Linked DNA regions of Homo sapiens. Changing the gene in region 2 together with the main gene of any one other region gives a genetic interaction. Each region holds a gene or a part of one and is shown on either strand. Other genes may lie near its edges.

Region 1 (4,589 bases), on a different chromosome or scaffold from region 2:
CAGCCTTCCAAAGGGTTAGGATTACAGGCATGAGCCACCACACCCAGCCTATTACTTTCTTATCTGTATTATTGTCAACTTTACATTTATTCTTCCTCTTTTAAATTAGCTGTGGAAAGGTGTATGTATTTCCTTTTCACAAAGTATTAAACCATCTATTCCTATGTCCTTTTCTTTTGATGTTGAGAGAGTATTTCTTTTTTTAAACCCACATTCACCCTTACTCTTTTTAACTTCTCTACCATTCCTTCACATTCCTCCATTTTATTATTTGCAGGATAGCAATGATAGGATTCATATTTACCTCACTGGATTTTTATGAGACTTAAAAGACCAAATGCTTTGAATAGTAAAACATGAAATTAAAAGGGCTAGGATCTTTATTTTTATGTAATGGAGGGATGAAGATGGAGCACAGGAGAGTTTTTGGAAAGTGAAACTATTTTGCATAATATAGTAATGGTGGATACATGTTATATATTTGTCAAAACCTACAGTGCTTGACTATAGTCCCAGATACTTGGGAGATCGTTTGAGTCCAGAAATTTGACTTCAGCCTGGGCAACATTAATGAGACCTGTCTCTTAAAACAAAACAAACCAAAAACCAAAAACAATAAAACATACAACAAAAAGTGTGAATTCTAATGTAAATTATAGACATTAGTTAGTAATCAGTGTCAATATCATTTCATCAATTGTAGTAAATGTACCACATTAAAACAAGATGTAGGCCAGGCACAGTGGCTCACGCCTGTAAGGACAGCACTTTGGGAGGATAAGGTGGGCAGATCGCTTGAGGTCAGGAGCTGAAGACCAGCCTGGCCAATATGGTGAAACCCCATCTCTACTAAAAATAAAAAAATTAACCAAGCGTGGTGGCATGCACCTGTAATCCCAGCAGCTTGGGAGGCTGATGCACCAAAATTGCTTGAACCTGGGAGGTGGAGGTTACAGTGAGCCTAGATCAAGATCATGCCACTGCATAGAGCTGGACTCTTTCAAAAAATAAATAAATAAATAAATAAATAAAAATAAAAATAAAATAAAAAACAAGACGTAAATAACAAGAGAAACTGTGAGGAGTGGAAGAGGGTATGTGGAAACTCTACTTTCTGATGAATTTTTCTATGAACCTCAAATTCTTTAAAAAAAGTCTATTAAAAAAAAACCCACTGAAGAGCAATGGATGTTTAGAAAAACATGTATCTTTCAAAACAAGGATAAAGACTTCATAAATTAATATTTACCATTCTCCAGCTTGGCTGACTGAATTTAATTCTGTTACATTGTACATAATAGATGGCTCCAGTGAAACCTTCTCCATAAACATAGGTGAGGTTGTCATATTCTGAATCTGGGCTTCCAGAAATACTTCATCAGTCTGAGGATATGAAAAAAATATCCACCAAGGTGTGGTGGCATTTAAAATATTTATCTCAACAAAAATATCTTATCTATATGAAGAAAAAATATTAACCACAAATGTGATTAGTTCATGCCTGCAAATCAAAGTTACCACAATTAATGCAAGAAAAGAAATCTTCACCCTATCATAATTAACAGGGGCAAAGTCAAGTGTTAGTCAACTGATACCTTGTCAAACAATGGATGGAGGATAACTATATTTTGTCTTAACATCCCAAAATACTTAACTGGAATTTCATTTACAAATACTCTTTCTTTTCATTAGGTATTAAAATATTAAAATGTGCTTTAGTATGATGAATATACCTATGCTCCTATAATTTCAGTATTACGTTAAGATAATTAAGTCTTCATTATAATATGGCAGTATAACTTTGATTGTCATATTAATGCCAATTTAGATAGTGTAGTGACCACTAATACTATGAATAATCTATTTTGTAATCTTGAAGGATTTAACTTTTTAAATTAAAGCAATTTGCGAGTGGTCATTAGTGATTTCTTAGTTCATTTTAAATGTATATTGAGGGCTAAAAAAAGAATATGTGGATTATACTTCACCATCGTAGAGCTTTTAAATCAGGCAAAAGGTATTTTGTAGCCTCAGTGACAGATTTTAAAGCTGATGCTATTTAGCAATATTTGCCAGTAGGTAATTTTAATAATTAGATAAATTAGATAATTAGATAAATTTAGATAAATTAATTCCCCTAATTATGCTAAACATTATTTTATGCTATTTGGTTATTATTTTCCTTCATGTAATTGAAGGATAACAGACTAACTTGATTTATCTTTGAAACAAACCTACATGAAAAATGATACACTAAGGGTATTCAATAATTTTTTTCAAAAGTTTCATAGTAATATGTTTACTACACATAAATAACATAAAATCAACTATGACCAGAAAAATTTGCCACTTAAGAGCTTTTTATTTTTTTGAGACAGTCTCATTCTGTCACCCAGGCTGGAGTGTGGTGGGGTGATCTTGGTACACTGCAACCTCCGCCTCCCGGGTTCAAGGGATTCTCCTGCCTCAGCCTCCCGAGTAGCTGGGATTATAGGCGCGCAATATCATACTGAGCTAATTTTTGTATTTTTAGTAGAGACAGGGTTTCACCATGTTGGCCAGGCTGGTCTAGAACTCCTGACCTCAAGTGATCCACCCACCTCGGCCTCCCAAAGTGCTGGGATTAGAGGTGTGAGCCACTGTGCCTGGCCTATGAGCTTCCCCCAACCCCCACAAGATGGAGTCTTGCTCTGTTGCCCAGAGTAGAATGCAGTGGCAAGATCTCCTCTCACTGCAACCTCCACCTCCCAGGTTCAAGCGATTCTCCTGCCTCAGCCTCCCTAGTAGCTGGGACTACAGGCAGTGCCACCATGCCCAGCTAAATTTTTGTATTTTTATTTATTTTGAGACGAAGTTTCACTCTGTCACCCAGGCAGGAGTGCAGTGGTGCGATCTCAGCTCACTGCAACCTCTGCCTCCTGAGTTCAAGTGATTCTCCTGCCTCAGCCTCTCAAGTAACTGGGATTACGGGCAAGTGCCACCATGCCTGGCTAATTTTTGTATTTTTTATAGAGATGAGGTTTCACCATGTTGGCCAGGCTGGTCTCAAACTCCTGACCTCGTGATCCGCTCGCCTCGGCCTCCCAAAGTGCTGAGATTACAGGCATGAGCCACCGCGCCTGGCTGAGCTTTTTAAACACTAACACCAAGAAAATGAAAATCATTTGCAAAAATATAATGATTAAGTTATAATATAATGTACTATTATCTAAAATAAAACAGATTCTTTAGTTTTTGGGACATGTGTTCAAATGAAAATAGAAATAAAATGATTTATCAGTTTAAAAAAATGCATCATTTAATGGCATTTTTTGGTTACTGGTTCTAAAAAAAAGTACATATATCCCATCAATCCATTGCTTTTAAAAAAATAACCACAGACCCACATTTCAATTTAAAAACTGCAATTTTCTGCATAAATTTAGGAAGAGCTTAGATAAAACGAAAGAAAAACAAGCAGCATAATGGAAAATCAAGTTAGTTTGAACAGTTAGTGTAAAGCAATTTGATATTTTAAAAATTAAGAATTCAGTGCTAAGGCAGTTGATGTTATTACATATGTAATGTGATATAAGCAAATGCTGCTTATTGTAAATATAACTTTGAAAACAAAATTTTAGCCAAGTTGGGAAAATTTGCTTTTCTTCTGTTTCATTTTGTCAAGCGGCCATCATCACCTGACCCAGACTTAAAACTAAAACCACTGTGCATCTGAAAATGAATTTCGATTATACAGTCTACTCAAAGAACTGAAGGCTAGGATAATCGGGTATTTTACAGTAAGATGATGAAAATCACAAGGCCATTTGACACAAGGTAACATACCTCTTTAAAAAAAAAATCTAAAGAAGAAACACTGAAAATGAGAATTGTTTCAGTATGACAATTTAACTTTTGAGCTAATTTTGCCCCACGGAATAGAAAATTGATATAATTAAAAAGTACATAAAATTATATATAATCTTTCTGAAGTCACATAGGTGGTATTCACAACTAACTGTTTTTCCACTATGTTTTGTAAAGAGAGATTAATTAGGCAGAGTCAAAAAGTGGTGAGTAAGAAAAGTATAAAAATTTATAATAAAAAATCAAATTACCACAGAACTGAGGTCACTCTAATGGAAAAATAAAAAAGAATAATTAGAAAAATCAGAGTTAAATGTTAAAGAAAAAAGAATTACTTTAAAATAAAATGCATTTCTGCATTTTTTTAAATTACTAAACAAGACAGCATTAGTAAATAAGAAAGTAAACAGGAAGCAACATAAAGAAATATGACAAACCATTTTTCTAAAAAGGTGAAACTGCTAAGGTTAAATGACAATGGAATAGAGAAGAACCCTATGGCTGAATACTCAACAGTAGCAAACTGTTAAGGGCACATTTTGGAGCAGAGAGGTATACCCCATGACTTTCTAGTTCTATAATTCTTTACCAACATTGCAATTCTTCATAGATAATTTAGGATGAATATATACTATCCTCCACATTCAGAATAGATATACACCGTATACCTTCTCTTAAATTTATGTAATAATGGAATCATCTTTCTAAGGAATATCTTGGGCAATTAGAGTTCCGTTGATCAC
Region 2 (5,248 bases):
GTGCCCACAGAAAGCAACATATGTCAAAAATATATCTGGCAATACGTATCAAAAATATTTAAAATATCAATACTCTGCATCCTTTTTTCTACTTCTAGAAATGTATCCCAAAAAAGAAAATCAGACATAAACATAGACTTACATACAAAACTGTTCATTAAAGTACTTTTAATAGGAAAATAATTTTTGTCTAAAAATACAGAAAAAAATAAATTACAAGACATTTGTATGATGAAATATTTAAAATTTTCCTTTAAAAAATGATTTCATAATTCTCATCACCAGGAAATGGAGGAAATAAAACCATTTTATAATAGGATAAAATGCTCATGATATAAATGAAAAATGGCAGGATATTCAACAAAATATATATTGTAGTTATTAAAACAAAGTATACACATGTTACATAAATATTATAAAATGTAAGTATGTAAAACTTTTGAAGGCAATAAAATTTCTTATCAGTAACATCAGTTATCACTGAACAACTGGTAATTGAACATAACCCAAAATATAGAAAACGATGTTCACTGTGGGAAAAGAAACTAAAAGTTGAGCAAGAGAGAAATGGTTGTACACATTAAGTTGCAATAAAATGAAGAACTGTTATAAGTATTAACTATTATCTATGACAAGCTTTTGCAGACATAAAAAACTATGTTACAATATTAAATTTTTTTCAATTCAGAGTTTTGTTAAGTATGAGTCTAATAACGTAAAAGAAGACACAAATAGAAAAAAGATGGCAATGAGGTAAATAAATGGTTGTTTTGGGGTGGTTGTCCCATACTTTTCTCCTGTGACTAGATTCATTACTTTTAAACTACTGATAGGAAACAGTACACAAAAATAATAGATGAAGAGATTGTTTAACTCCAAACTGATAAATGAACAGTAGTTACCTAATAGCAAACTAGAAACTAACTTAATATCCATTCTCTTAATTAATCTTTACAACACTGAGATCAGAATCCTTCCAATGTTACAGAGGAAACCCAGGGTTGGCAATGTTAGCAAATGGGAAAAGTAGGAGTCAAATGAAGCCACACACTGAAGTTTGTGATCTCCAATCCACTGAATCAAAACGCTAATCAATACTAAAACCAATAATTTAGATCAAGGTAGCTGAACTATAAAAGAAAAACAGAACATTTCTCTCAAAACCAAACTCATCTATTATTTTCCTATTTTTAAAACAAAATTGCTTTACCTCTTTTTAAAATGAAATTGAGTTAATATCTATACTAATGATACATTTTCCATACAATTATCAAAGTATATAAATTAAATCTTATGTCAATCCTAGATGACGTGTCTTTATTGACAAATATTATAAATCCATGCTTTTGCTTGACAAAGATATATATATTAGACTATTTGACAAAGAAATACTTAACATATTTTTACTTAAATGAATACATGGATAATTGGTATTATCTGTGATTTTTTTAATGAACAGTTTTTTTTTAATTAAAAAACCTTTTTTAAGGTTCTAATTATGCTCTTCCAAATGTCAGTAACAGTGCCTTCTATTAAGATTTGCCTTCAATAATTCGTTATATTTGGTTCACCCTTCATCGTGGTCTTGAAAGGAAAACAATTTCTCCCACTTCAGCTAATTCATCTATACCCCATGCTTTTGTCCTTTCCTAACACCTCAAGAACCTCAACCCCAAACTTAAGACTTCTATTTAGAATTCACCGCTTATTTCTCTTTTCCTCTGCTTTTAAATGCAATCATGCATCATTTAATGACAGGGATACATTCTGAGAAATGTGTCAGGTGATTTCATCATTGTGTGAACATCAGAGTGTACTTACACAAACCTAGATGGTATAGCCTAGTATGCACCTAGGCTCTGTGCCATACAACCTGTTGCTCCCAGGCTACACACCTATACAGCATGTTACTGTACTAAATTCTGTAGGTAACCATAACCCAATAGTAAGAACTTTTGTACTGAAACATATCTAAAAATAGAACAGTTATTGTAAACATATAGTATTTTAATTTTATAGGACCACTGTCATATATGTGGTCTATCACTGACCAAAACATCATTATAGGGTGCATGACTATATATACAGATGCACCATATTTTGGAAAAACAGCAACAAAAATTGTACTTTAGTTTGGTCCTCCTTTTAGCTTTTTATCCTATTTCCAACCTCCTCTATTTTATCTTTCCTTCCTCTTCTTGCCACACTCTAGAGTTTACAAAGCTATTTTTGCTTCCTAAAATCTACCTCCTCTTTAAACTACACTTACCTCATGCCCACTTTCTCAATGCACAGAATTTGTTCTGACAAACTGGTTGAATGTACTCATTTGTTGTTAATTGAATGGCATCCTCTCCATCTTCCTGGTCCTTGACCTTAGATTTGACAATGCTGACCACACCACTTCCTTCTTGAAATACTTTCATCTCTGGGTGCTAGACAGGGCAAACTTCTACTATAGGCACACACTTCTCTTCCAACATCTATCATTCCAGAACCAAGGACCATCATTGCTACACTCTCTCCAATTCCCCCAATCCTTCTTTTGTTTAAGTGCATCAGTTCCAACAGTAAATAAACCCAAAGTAGTCTCAGACATGAATTCTCTTTGATTTGAGCTTCTTTATGCAGAAAATATCACTTAAAAACAATTACTCTGTAGGACTGTTATGGGGATTAAATGAAGCACTATATGGAAAACACTCCAGACATAGGACATGCTCGGCACATGTCAGGTCTTCAGTTCCACTATCATCGTAAAATGTATTTCCTAACTTCTCCAGCTCTCACTGATACTCCCATTTCTCTGAGCTCCTATAGCAATTATAACAGCTACATGCTTCCATGTTCAGTAGGTTTATGTGTATTATGTTTATATTGTTTTACTATTTACAGAACCACCCTAAAAAGTCTCTGATTATAGACATGAACTACAGCTTACGTCTGTCCCTTACGATGTTTTATACACAATAGCCTTAAATATTTAGGAGTTTAAAGAAGATATACATGTTACTAAGCAAAATAAATGTTCGATAACATTTAAGAGGAAGATGTCTTACCCCTCGCCAGTTAGAGCACAGCATGCCTGGATATGCCACTGGTGATCTTTAATAGAAGTTAGCTTCAAAAACTGGGAGATTTCTGCTACAGTCATGCATTCTTTAACATCTTGTTTATTAGCAAAAATCAGCAATCCAGCTTTTCTTAGGTCCTATTAAAGCAAATAAAACTGTAAAGGCCAATACATTTTCCACATATTTTTCAACTTCATTAACAGAATCTTTTTCACAATCTTAGTAAACAAGAATTTCTCAACTATGTGACATAAAAGCATCTCAGTGCCTAGGCTGATAACACATTTTTTATACTTGTATGTGTTTACATATTTCTTATAGTCTCAGACAACAATTTTTTATGGTCCTAAGTGCTGTATTTAACAGTCATGTTTCCCAGTATATACACCACCCACCCCCTAAATCCAAAATTAGGCTTAAATGGCTAAGAACTACCTTTTAGCCTAATACTTGAGAGCTCTCCAAAATTTTATCTTGCCTATACTTTTCTGCTTTACCTCACATCACTCCTATATAAGTACTCTGCTGTAATTAGCAACCTATCCTACTGCTCTCTAAACAGTTTTGGGCACTGCCATCTCTATGTTGTTCAAATCATTTCTCTTGCATGTATTTCCTTCCCTCCAACCTCCTAAACCAGCCTTTCCCAATCAGGATTCCACAAGAGAATTAAGCTCCAAAGAAAACGATGAGTGACTACATTGCAAATCTCCCAATAATGTACACAGCTAGTACCTTCTAGCTGCATAGGAAATAAATGAATTCATTACAATGTATGCCTTAAAACCTTAGGGCTTAATTCTCAGTTGAAGTTCTATCCTAAACCAATCCTATTCACCCTAATTTCTGTCATTGTATATGAAGATTTCTTAGATTTGAATATGTAATACAGCCATCTTGGAGTGGCATTAAACTTATCAAGTTTCCCCAATTAGAAGTTCTATCACTTCAATGCTATGACTCAGAGGCAAGTTCTTTAAGCTTTCTGAATTTGTTCCTCATATCTTTTACTGAGTATCTGATCTGAGCAAGACACCTACTGCATTAACCCTTTTCCGAATGTAATTGTGCACACTCCAAATAACTGGTATAATGTTTTACTCACTAAACAGGCCAAAAGTTCTTAGTCTCTTCCTGCCCCACTCCTCTCTACCTGCCAGTTTTAAAGCCAGGGACTTCCTTGATAATCTGTTCAAAATCACAGATCTTTCCCCCCAAAACACACATATGCATATACACAAAATTTTTTTAAGTTTATGTACAATTTGAGGGTGTTAATAAATAGCCTAAATTCCCTACATGGATACTGGGCCAAGAATCCATGAAGGATGTACTCAATTAGCAAGTGAAACCCTCATAAAATTCTGCCTGTTACATATTAAGAGATATAAAATTAAGGTTTTGGTGCCACACTTGCAAGTTTTCACAACTGTTGAATGGCATTTGTCTTCTTAGGGATTTTACTGAGATATTTTGGTTTCAATAATGTATGTGTTTGAATAAATAAAATCTTCAGCAGATACAAAATGACTTTTGTTAGAATACAGTTTTGATGATTCTTTCTGATGCAAATAAAAACATTAGTAGTATATTTGTATTTCTTATTTGGTTAAAGGAGTTATGTAAAATATTTATATAACAATCAAGACTGACTTTAATTACAGTGCCCTCTGCAGGATGGCAGCTATTAATGCTACCACAGTTTATATAGTTATCTCATTAAGTATGGTCAGAAAGGAATACTGCTACAATGTTTGCAATTTTAAGATTTCATGTTCAACTAGTTTCACCTATATTTCAGTTCACCTGCCTATATCAAAGGCAAAAAACTTGAAGAGATAAAGTATAACTTGTATACATATAGTCATTATCAAGGATATACAGTAAATATTTTTTCTTTTCTCCTAAACAGAAAATGAAACCATTCATCAGCCAGGTGTGGTGGCTCACACCTGTAATCCCAGCACTTTGGAAGGCCGAGGTGGGTGGATCTCTTGAAGCCAGGAGTTTGAAACCAGCCTGGCCAACAGGGCGAAACCCCGTTTCAACTGAAAATATAAAAATCAGCAAGGTGTAGTGGTGCACACCTGTACTCTCAGCTACTTGGGAGGCTGAGGGATGAGAATAGCTTGAACCCAAGAGGTGGAGGTTGCAGCGAGCAAAGATAGCGCCAC
Region 3 (4,589 bases), on a different chromosome or scaffold from region 2:
TACCTTAGAGACGGGTATCTCTGACACTGCATCATTCATTCAACAGCTGTAGGGTACTCCGTTATGCGGATGCACCATAAATGATTTCACTAGCACCCTACTCCTCAACACCAATGGTGTCTCTAATGTTTTGTTACCTTGCAAACACTGCTGTGAGTATCCTTGTAGATAATTCTTGTTTGAATATTTCTCTATAGGAAATATTCCTGGCAATGAAACTGATGAAGCAAAGGGTAATTTTTATATTCTTAAAGATATTGCCAAACTGCCTTCCAAAGAGTTTGTAATATTTTACAGTCTGACCAACAATATATAACAATGCCTAGTTCCCTTCACCCTGGCCACATAGCATATTTTCAAACTTCCTATTTTTTCAAACTGGTAAGTTAAAAAAAATCCCATTGTACTTTCAATTTCCATTTCTCTTATGAGTTTTCATATGCGAAGACACCATTTGTTATTTCCTTTTCTGTAAATCATGTTTATATTCTTTGCCTATTTACATATCACACTGATGTGATGGTCTTTCTGTAACTGATTTGTAGAAGCTTTGAAAATCAATGAAGTAAGCCCTCTGTCTATAATGTGTGTTGCAAATGTATCACTGGCCTTTAGATGTTGTTTATGGTGTCTACTGTTATACAATTTTTTTCTTTGATGGCTTCTGGATTTTGCATCATACTCAGAAAAGCCTTTCAGATTATAAAAAAATATTCTTCTGTGTTTTTCAATTTTTTAAAACATTTCAGTCTTTGTCTACTCTGGAGTGTATTTTGATACGAAAATGTTTATTCTTAATTTTCAATCTACACAAGAAAAACAATTTCAAACAAAATGAAGCAAACTATGATCAGTACCAGGGACTCCATATCAATCTTTTCCTTTTCAAAAGTGCTAAAATATTCAGAGAGGCTAAGTGCTTCCAGAGTTTCTTGCAAAGTTAGGACTTCTTTATTTTCAACAACAAGGTCATACGACTCATCCAAAGTCAGCTTTGGCTCTTCAGGCATCTTTAAAAAAAAAAGTATGAAAAACATTACAAGCTCAGAAAAACTCCCATATAATGACTGCTGATCTACGAAAACTCTCAAACAATTTTGCTTTACACAGAAATCATAATTTTAGGCACAGTACTTTGCCATTCAAAGTTTGAATATTCTGGCCAGGCCCAGTGGCTCACGCCTGTAATCCCAGCACTTTGGGAGGCTGAGGCAGGTGCATCACCTGAGGTCAGGAGTTGAAGACCAGCCTGGCCAACATGATGAAACCCTGTCTCTACTAAAAACACAAAAATTAGCTCAGCTTGGTGGCAGGCGCCTGTAATCCCAACTACTCGGGAGGCTGAGGCAGGAGAATCGCTTGAAACCGAAAGGCGGAGGTTGCAGTGAGCCGAGATCACACCATTGCACTCTAACCTGGGTGACAAAAGTGAAACTCCGCCTCAAAAAAAAAAAAAAATTGAATATTCTGAAAAGTATATAAATTTAATAAATCACTCAAGTCTCCATTTCCTATAATTTACATTTTTAAAAATCACAAACTTTCACATTTAAATTTATAACCCATAAAGAAGAAGAGTGAGAAACTCAAATAATGAGCTATATGATTCCATTCCATTTCTAAACCTCGGTGTACTTTAATATGTAAAACCAGTTTCAGGGCTGGACACGGAAGCTATTATATTTGGGCCTATAACTGTACTCTGAATTTGGGGATTCTCTGAAGAGTTATTGATGCCAGCACTTTGGGAAGCCAAGGCAGGAGGATCGCTTGAGGCCAGGAGGGAACTCAAGACTAGCCCAAGCAACCAATGAGGCTCAGTTAAAACAAACAAACAAACAAACAAACAAACAAAAGTTTCAAGAAACAGTTCAGACTTTTGAAAATTGTTCAGCTCCATAGACTCTAAATCGAAATGTTAATTGGCCACGTACAGACGTACCTGCTTTTCCTGAAAATGTAGCTGCTTCACAACTCCATTAGCAACAGCAAGAGGTCCAGGGCACTTTGATAAATTCAAATCTTTTTGATTAGACAGGATGTCAAACAATATTAAAGAACCTATGAAAAAGAAACATTTTGCCTTATAATGTAGTAGGTACTTTTATAACACTAATTCTTTTTTCACTGTCTATAGTCAAAAGTCATACAGAAGTTACATGTTATTCAAGACCTGATAATTAATTATTTTATCAAACAGCAGAATAAAGTAAAATACATAGCATTCCCTAGGTAATACTAGAGGTGAATATAGAAAAGGCAGAATCTAAACTCAGAGCATTCATTTCTACCTTTTCTGAAACTTAAAATCTGTAATTCTTAATTTTGCACTAACAATATCACCTACACTGAAAGCAGTTATGACTCAACAAAAATTGTATTTAAAATGTGAATATTTGACAGTTTTACCTAAACTGTGACCAGCAACAGAGACACCTCCTTTGAAGTCTGGGTTCCGACTCATAAAGAGTGCATGCAGATGGTTTATCTCCATTCCTACTTTTTCCACAATTGTCTGACAGTAGGTGGGGCTGTTATAAAATAAAATATCTAGCAAAGTTTCATTGGTAAAGTGACGAAATCGACCAATACTTGGCAAAGTGATTTTCTTAATATTCCTGTTTAAAAAGAAAAATACAGCACATTCAGTCAGCATCTACCTTAAATTTACAGATTTTTTTAAAGTTTAGATTTTTGACTCCTGAAAATACACTAAGAAAACCCCACAGACTATGAGTTGTTTCTGTAGATAGTCATTATAAATAAATCAAGATAGGCCAGATGCGGTGGCTCACACCTGTAATCCCAGCACTTTGGGAGGCTGAAGTGGGTGGATCACTTGAGGTCAGGAGTTCAAGACCAACCAGGCCAACATGGCGAAACCCCGTCTTTACTAAAAATACACAAATTAGCCGAGTGTGGTGGTGTACACCTGTAATCCCAGCTACTCAGGAGGGTGAGGCAGGAGAACTGCTTGAACCTGAAAGGCAGAGGTTGCAGTGAGCTGAGACTGCACCACTGCATTCCAGTCTGGGCGACAGAGCAAGATTCCACCTCAAAAAAAAAAAAAAAAATTTAAATCAAAAGTTAGCCACAAGTCATGGCACACACCTGTACACCCAGCTATTTGGGAGGTTGAGGCATGAGAATCGCTTGAACCCAGGAGGTGGAGGTTGCAGTGAGCCGAGATTGTGCCACCACACTCCAGCCTGGGTGACAGAGCGAGACTCCACATCAAAAAAAAAATTAAAAGTATAAATAAAGGTAAACCAAAAAAATTTGTGCTGCCACATGTGGTGGCTCATGCCTGTGATCCTAGCACTTTGAGAGGCTAGGGCAGGAGGACCGCTTGAGCCCGGGAGATCAAGACCAGCTTGAGCAACACAGTGAGACCCCATCTCTACAGAAAATTTAAAAATTAGCCAGGCATGGCGGCTTGCACCTATAGTCCCAGCTACTTGGGAGACTGAGGTGGGAGGATCACTTGAGCCCAGGAGGCCAAGTCTACAGTGAGCCATGATCATGCCAGCGCACTCCAGAGCCTGGGTGACAGTGAGATGCTGTCTCAAAAACAATTCAGTTTTTTTTTTAAAGTTATTTGTGCCTATAACTATACTATGAATTTTGGGATTCTCTGAAGAGTTAGTTGCTATATAAGTCATATGCAAAGATTTCTATTTTATTTTTAAAGAGGGAAGATTACTCTTCCATTTTTCTTCCAGTTAACTGCAAATCTGGACACCTGACAAAACTTGTGGGTCAAAAGGACTAAAGAGAATATCAAACAGAAAAAACAGGGCTACATGGAATGAAAAATCTTCCCTAATTTGAGAATGACCAAAATGAAGTTTAGGAATACACACAGAGAAAGAAAACACCCTTACAATAGGGCCTAACATAGACAAAACGCTGTTTGTAGAAATAGTTTTATTAAACTATGTACCCTGAAACATTACGGTGTTCACTAAAATCTAGACATGTGCCAGCATAACTATTACCTGTATTTATGATTCTCAATTGGGAGCATTCAAAATTGAGCAGAGTATTTTTAATTGTCACAGTGCCTGGTGAGCACTGCTAGTACTGAGTGGCCTTTACACTAAGGAAGTTAAGTGGTCTGCACTGCGACAGCAAAGAATTGTCCTGACAAGAGCATCTCCACTGAGAAACAATATTCTGAATCTGTGGTTCTCAGCCAGGGGTGATTTTTACCCTCCAGGGGACATCTGGCAATTTCTGGAGACATTTTTGTTGGGGTGGAAAGCCCATTAGGCATCCTACTACATAAAGGACAGCCCCCTGTCTAAACTGCTACAGATTAAAATTGTATTTTAAAACCAGCTAAAATTTCTTAAGATTCTCTTAAATATTTACAAAAGGAATGCACACACACAGAGAGAAAAGTAGTGTGTAAACTTTACAGCCAATATTTAATTATATGTCAGAAGTATACAATTTTTAAAAACATATTGATTGAAGCTACAATAAACTATTTCATATTACGGTTTAAATCTTAAATTTAAATATGACTAATCTGAAAAACAAGTTATCAAAATCCACAAACCTGTCCACACCTGTGGCGTCCCCAC
Region 4 (4,589 bases), on a different chromosome or scaffold from region 2:
ACATTGAACCAAGGGTGCTAGGTCTTTAGATCTCTCCTCCCTCCCTCCTTCCCAAAAACATACACAACACCAGCTTGGATACAGAGCAGCAGAGCAAGGCAGTTCTGTGAAGTTTGTCCCTGGCAGCCCTTAGCAGTGAAGCACTCAGCTGGGAATTGGACACAGCACAGGCAAAAAGGCTTATGGGCAGGAAGAGCAAACACCAGCTAAAGCAGTGCTGCTTCATGACTAGAATAAAAATACAGCCTGCAACTTACTCAGCCTGACAACTCTGAGGTGTGATTTTTGACTATGTTTACTTTGTTGGGAATTCTCATAATTTGAAATTTTGTATAAAAGGTGAATTTATGTTAATAATTTTATATGGCACTTTGTTAAAAGGTTGATTGAGGGAGGATTAAATATTTTAAAAATATAGTTATTTGAAATTTCATGTAACCTCCATAGTAAGTTCCCATTAAATCTTTTCTTTCCAGTCTGTTTCCTTTATGAGCTTACTCTATCCAAGTGGTGTCCTGATACCTAGTTTTTCATTGTAGAAATATACCCAAAACTAATTATTTTAATGTCTGGTCATATTACTACAATTCGCTTCTTTGTTCTTTAGTACTTAGTACTTTTAGATTTGGGGCTTACCTGATTTGTCTTTAGCCAGGCAGTGAAATCAATTTCACTCTTTCCTGTTGTACTTTATCTTTTAAAAAAAAAAAATCTCAGTATAGTTCTGATTAAAATTTCCTTTCTGAGTCCTAAATGCTTTAAATCTTCTTTTCCCATTCTTTTTACTTCTCCTATCCATAGTTACAAGTTCTTACGCATGACATATCTCTTGGCTGATAAGTTTAACTGCTTAAGCACCTGTTTATGTTTCATTTTTAACATAGCCAGTTACTATTATGCTTGGATATACACAATGAGGGAGTTTGTGGCTTTGTTTTCCCTTTCCACAGACGTCTCTAATCTCCTTTATTAAATGCTTTGTATTTCTACTAATTAGTATACATAGCTAAACTTTTTGTTTTTGTTTTTTGAGACATAGTAGTCTTACTCTGTTGCCCAGACTGGAGTGCAGTGGTGCAATCACGGCTCACTGCAGCCTCGGCCTCCCCAGCTCAAGCAGTCCTCCTGCCTCAGCCTTCCAAGTAGCTGGGACTATAGGCATGGACCACTACACCTGGCTAATTTTTTATTTTTTAGAAATGAGGTCCCACTGTCTTGCCCAGGCTGGTCTCAAACACCTGGGCTCAAACAGTTCTCCTGCCTTTGCTACCAAAGCGCTGAGTCACACCTGGCCACACAGCTCAACTTTAACTCTCCTGTTTTTCCCCTTTAAGTTTTTTCTTTAAATTAGGGTTGACAAACTTTCACTAAAGGACTTGAAAGTATTTTAGACATTGTAGGCCATAAGATCTCAGTTGCCACTAATCAGCTCTGCCCTTGTAGTGAAAAAGCAGCCATAGGTAATATGCAACTTCATGCATTTGTCTGGGTTTCAATAAAACTCTTATTTATGGACACTGAACTTTAAATCTCATTTTTCCACATTTGTATGTCTTCCTTTGATCCCCTCCTCCCCCATTGCACTATAAAAGCCATTCTTGGCTTATGTGCCATAGTTTGTCAACCCCTGCTTTAAATGCAGTCTTTGATATGCTTCTGTTGCCTAACCCAGTTACTCACTATTATTACCATAATCTGTGTTGCTAATTACGGAGATCTTTTGCACCTTGCAGCAGGAGACAAGGATGTTCAATAATTTCAGAGCTAAACTCAAAGTATTAAATGCCAGCCTGCTTTGGGGCTTCAGAGATTTTTAAATTCATTGATTTTAAGGGGCATTTGATTTTAAGAGGTGTTTGACAAGAACAGATTTTAAGAGGTATTTGGCAAAAGTTGCTTAGAAGAAAATTATTTGCAAATCATATGCCGTATTCCATTTGTTAGTTGAGTAGATGATAATGGGAATGATACTTATTCAGCATAACATTTGTCTAACTCTTGTAATTGACAGAGTACTTCCACACACATGATCTCACCTGGTCTTCACCATGTGTACTAAGGATAAAGATAGTACAAGTTTAGTATCCCTTATCTAAGTGTTTGGGACCAGGATTGTGTTGCATTTTTTATTTTTATTTTTTTTCTGATTTCGGAATATTTGCATATACATAAGGCAATATCATGGGGATGGGACCCAAGTCTGAACATGAAATTAATTTATGTTTTACATATACCTTATAATATAGCCAGATGGCATCATTATACAGTATTTTTACTAGTTTTGTGCATGAAGTAAAGTTTGTATTAAGCATTTAATGTGTGGAATTTTCCACTTGTGGCATCATATTAGCATTCAAAAAGTTGCAGATTTTGGAGCATTGTGGATTTTGGATTTTCAGATTGGGGTGCTCAACTTGTGTGTTATCCTCACTCTTGTGTGTGAGGGTAACACTTGCATGTTACCCTTATCTAAAGAGGATATATCATAGAGGTTAAGTGACTTGCTTGTGTCCACTAATTATGCAGTGACAGAACCGAGGCTTCTTGTCCATTGAACACTCACAGATTTTAGAAATGAAAAGCATGATATCATCACATTTAATTTTATCATTTTATAAAAGAGAACCCAAGACCCACAGAGCCAGCTCTCAGGAACCTTCATCTCCCAGTTACTAGGCCAGTGTACTTTCTCTTAGGGTCTGTCTCACCTAGAAATAACTAAATTGAAATTTGTTAATATTGTTGTATATAGATACTTTTATTTTAATTTTTTCTTAATATCTTAAAAAGTATAAAGTAAAATGTTTAAGTGCCTGTTAGTATATTTTATTAGTCAACAATGGTTCAAAGCTAAAACTCTTGGATTTTAGTACATGTGGAATAAAAGCAAATCTAACCTTTGTTCCTTTGCAGCACCAGCATTGGATGTTGATTGGCAGAGCAACAACACCTTTGCTTCTTGTAGTACAGATATGTGCATTCATGTCTGTAAATTAGGACAAGACAGACCTATTAAAACATTCCAAGGACATACGGTAAGAAACCTTTTTTCCACATTAAAGTGGTCATGATTAACAAGTAATGTTTCAGAATAGTTTTAAAGTATGTATGTTTAATATTCAAGTAGCTACCCAGTCTATACAATGAAAATGTGAATATTTACTATTATTTTTAGAATGAAGTAAATGCTATCAAATGGGACCCAACTGGCAATCTCTTGGCCTCCTGTTCTGACGACATGACTTTAAAGGTAATTTGCTTAGTAGGGAGAAATGGGTTGGCGGTGTCACACAGTATGGTTGCTCTGGCCATTTTAAGACCATTTAGAATGTCTGTCTTACATGGAGTGTTTGTACCTGCATGAAAACTCCAACATTTTAAATGGCTAACCATTGTTTTTTAAATTTTATAGTTTCTTTTCTGAAATACATAAAACTATTTGAATGTAGCAAATTATATTAAAATGATGGCTTGTGATACAATGAGACATATGATACCCTATTAGTTAGGGCTCTCCAGAGAAACAGAACCAATAAGAAGATGGATGGATGGATGGATGGATGGATGGATGGATGAGAGATTTACTGTGAGAAATTGACTCACGTGATTATAGAGGCTGAGAAGTCCCACAGTCTGCTGTCTACAAGCTGGAGACCCATGAAAGATGGAGGTGTGGTTCCATTCCAGGGCCAGAGAAGGAGTGCCAATGGTGTAAGTCCCAGTCCAAGAGCAGAAGACCAATATACCAACTCAGCAGTCAGGCTGAGGCAGAGAATTCTTGCTTCCTTGGCGGTTTTGTTCTGTTTAGAGCCTCACTGGACTGAGTGATGCCCCCCCCGCCGCCCATTGGGGAGGGTGGCAGTCTGCTTTTCTCAGTCAGCTAAGTTAAATGCCTGTCTCAACTGGGAACACCCTCAGACACAGCCGGAAATAATGTCTCACCAAATATCTGTACCCTGTGACTCAGTCAAGAAGACAGATAAAATTAGACATCACCAATAGTAAGAAAGGTCATGCTATAAATTGTCTTCACCATTAGAAAGTCATATGTTGAGGCAATTAAAGTTTATTTGCAATTAAAGTTTATTTGCATATGTAAAGATTTGACTTAATAAGTACTCAAAATCTTTGTAGCATTCATGGATTTGATTGGAATTCTTTGCGTTGTATTAATTTGATTTTGCTGTGGTATGACTATGTATCACCATTGCTGGGAAACTGATACATAGCAGAGAATCTCTCAGTGAGCGAGCCTAGTTGACATACCAACATCCACATCTCAACATGGATCTCTGTTTTTCTTGTTGTATGACTAAAAGCAAAACTGCTGTCTCGCACCTAAGCACACCAGATTCCTCATTTGGGGAAAAAAGCATTTGGAGATAAAGAACAACGTAATACTTATTTCCAAAATAAATGAAGCTTTGAGCCCTCTCCTGCAACAGCTAACCCTCTACTGAAAACAGTTTTATCCTTGACTTTGCAGTACCAAGGACTGCAGATGTGATGACCGTTACAGATATGAAAATCATGAGGGAAAACTGATTTTCCTGCTACTATGAACAGATTAAATTTAACTTTGCGAAACT

What was found. A genetic interaction does not mean that the proteins touch.
Region 1: changes in ARL5A (region 2) and TRAPPC13 together harm fitness more than expected from each alone (negative genetic interaction), as found in Homo sapiens cells (one large-scale study listed by BioGRID).
Region 3: changes in ARL5A (region 2) and SEC23IP together harm fitness more than expected from each alone (negative genetic interaction), as found in Homo sapiens cells (one large-scale study listed by BioGRID).
Region 4: changes in ARL5A (region 2) and TBL1XR1 together harm fitness more than expected from each alone (negative genetic interaction), as found in Homo sapiens cells (one large-scale study listed by BioGRID).

Annotation. Positions count from the first base shown.
Region 1 is NC_000005.10:65,655,162-65,659,750, reverse strand, and holds part of TRAPPC13 (trafficking protein particle complex subunit 13), read right to left. Parts: intron 4,116-4,589; coding exon 4,098-4,115; intron 1,384-4,097; coding exon 1,250-1,383; intron 1-1,249.
Region 2 is NC_000002.12:151,803,762-151,809,009, forward strand, and holds part of ARL5A (ADP-ribosylation factor-like protein 5A), read right to left. Parts: intron 3,212-5,248; coding exon 3,060-3,211; intron 1-3,059. UniProt on the Homo sapiens protein: Lacks ADP-ribosylation enhancing activity.
Region 3 is NC_000010.11:119,915,865-119,920,453, reverse strand, and holds part of SEC23IP (SEC23-interacting protein), read right to left. Parts: coding exon 4,565-4,589; intron 2,619-4,564; coding exon 2,410-2,618; intron 2,062-2,409; coding exon 1,943-2,061; intron 1,011-1,942; coding exon 858-1,010; intron 1-857. UniProt on the Homo sapiens protein: Plays a role in the organization of endoplasmic reticulum exit sites. Specifically binds to phosphatidylinositol 3-phosphate (PI(3)P), phosphatidylinositol 4-phosphate (PI(4)P) and phosphatidylinositol 5-phosphate (PI(5)P).
Region 4 is NC_000003.12:177,036,759-177,041,347, reverse strand, and holds part of TBL1XR1 (F-box-like/WD repeat-containing protein TBL1XR1), read left to right. Parts: intron 1-2,897; exon of another isoform or gene 2,898-2,913; coding exon 2,914-3,035; intron 3,036-3,175; coding exon 3,176-3,250; intron 3,251-3,603; exon of another isoform or gene 3,604-3,943; intron 3,944-4,589. UniProt on the Homo sapiens protein: F-box-like protein involved in the recruitment of the ubiquitin/19S proteasome complex to nuclear receptor-regulated transcription units. Plays an essential role in transcription activation mediated by nuclear receptors.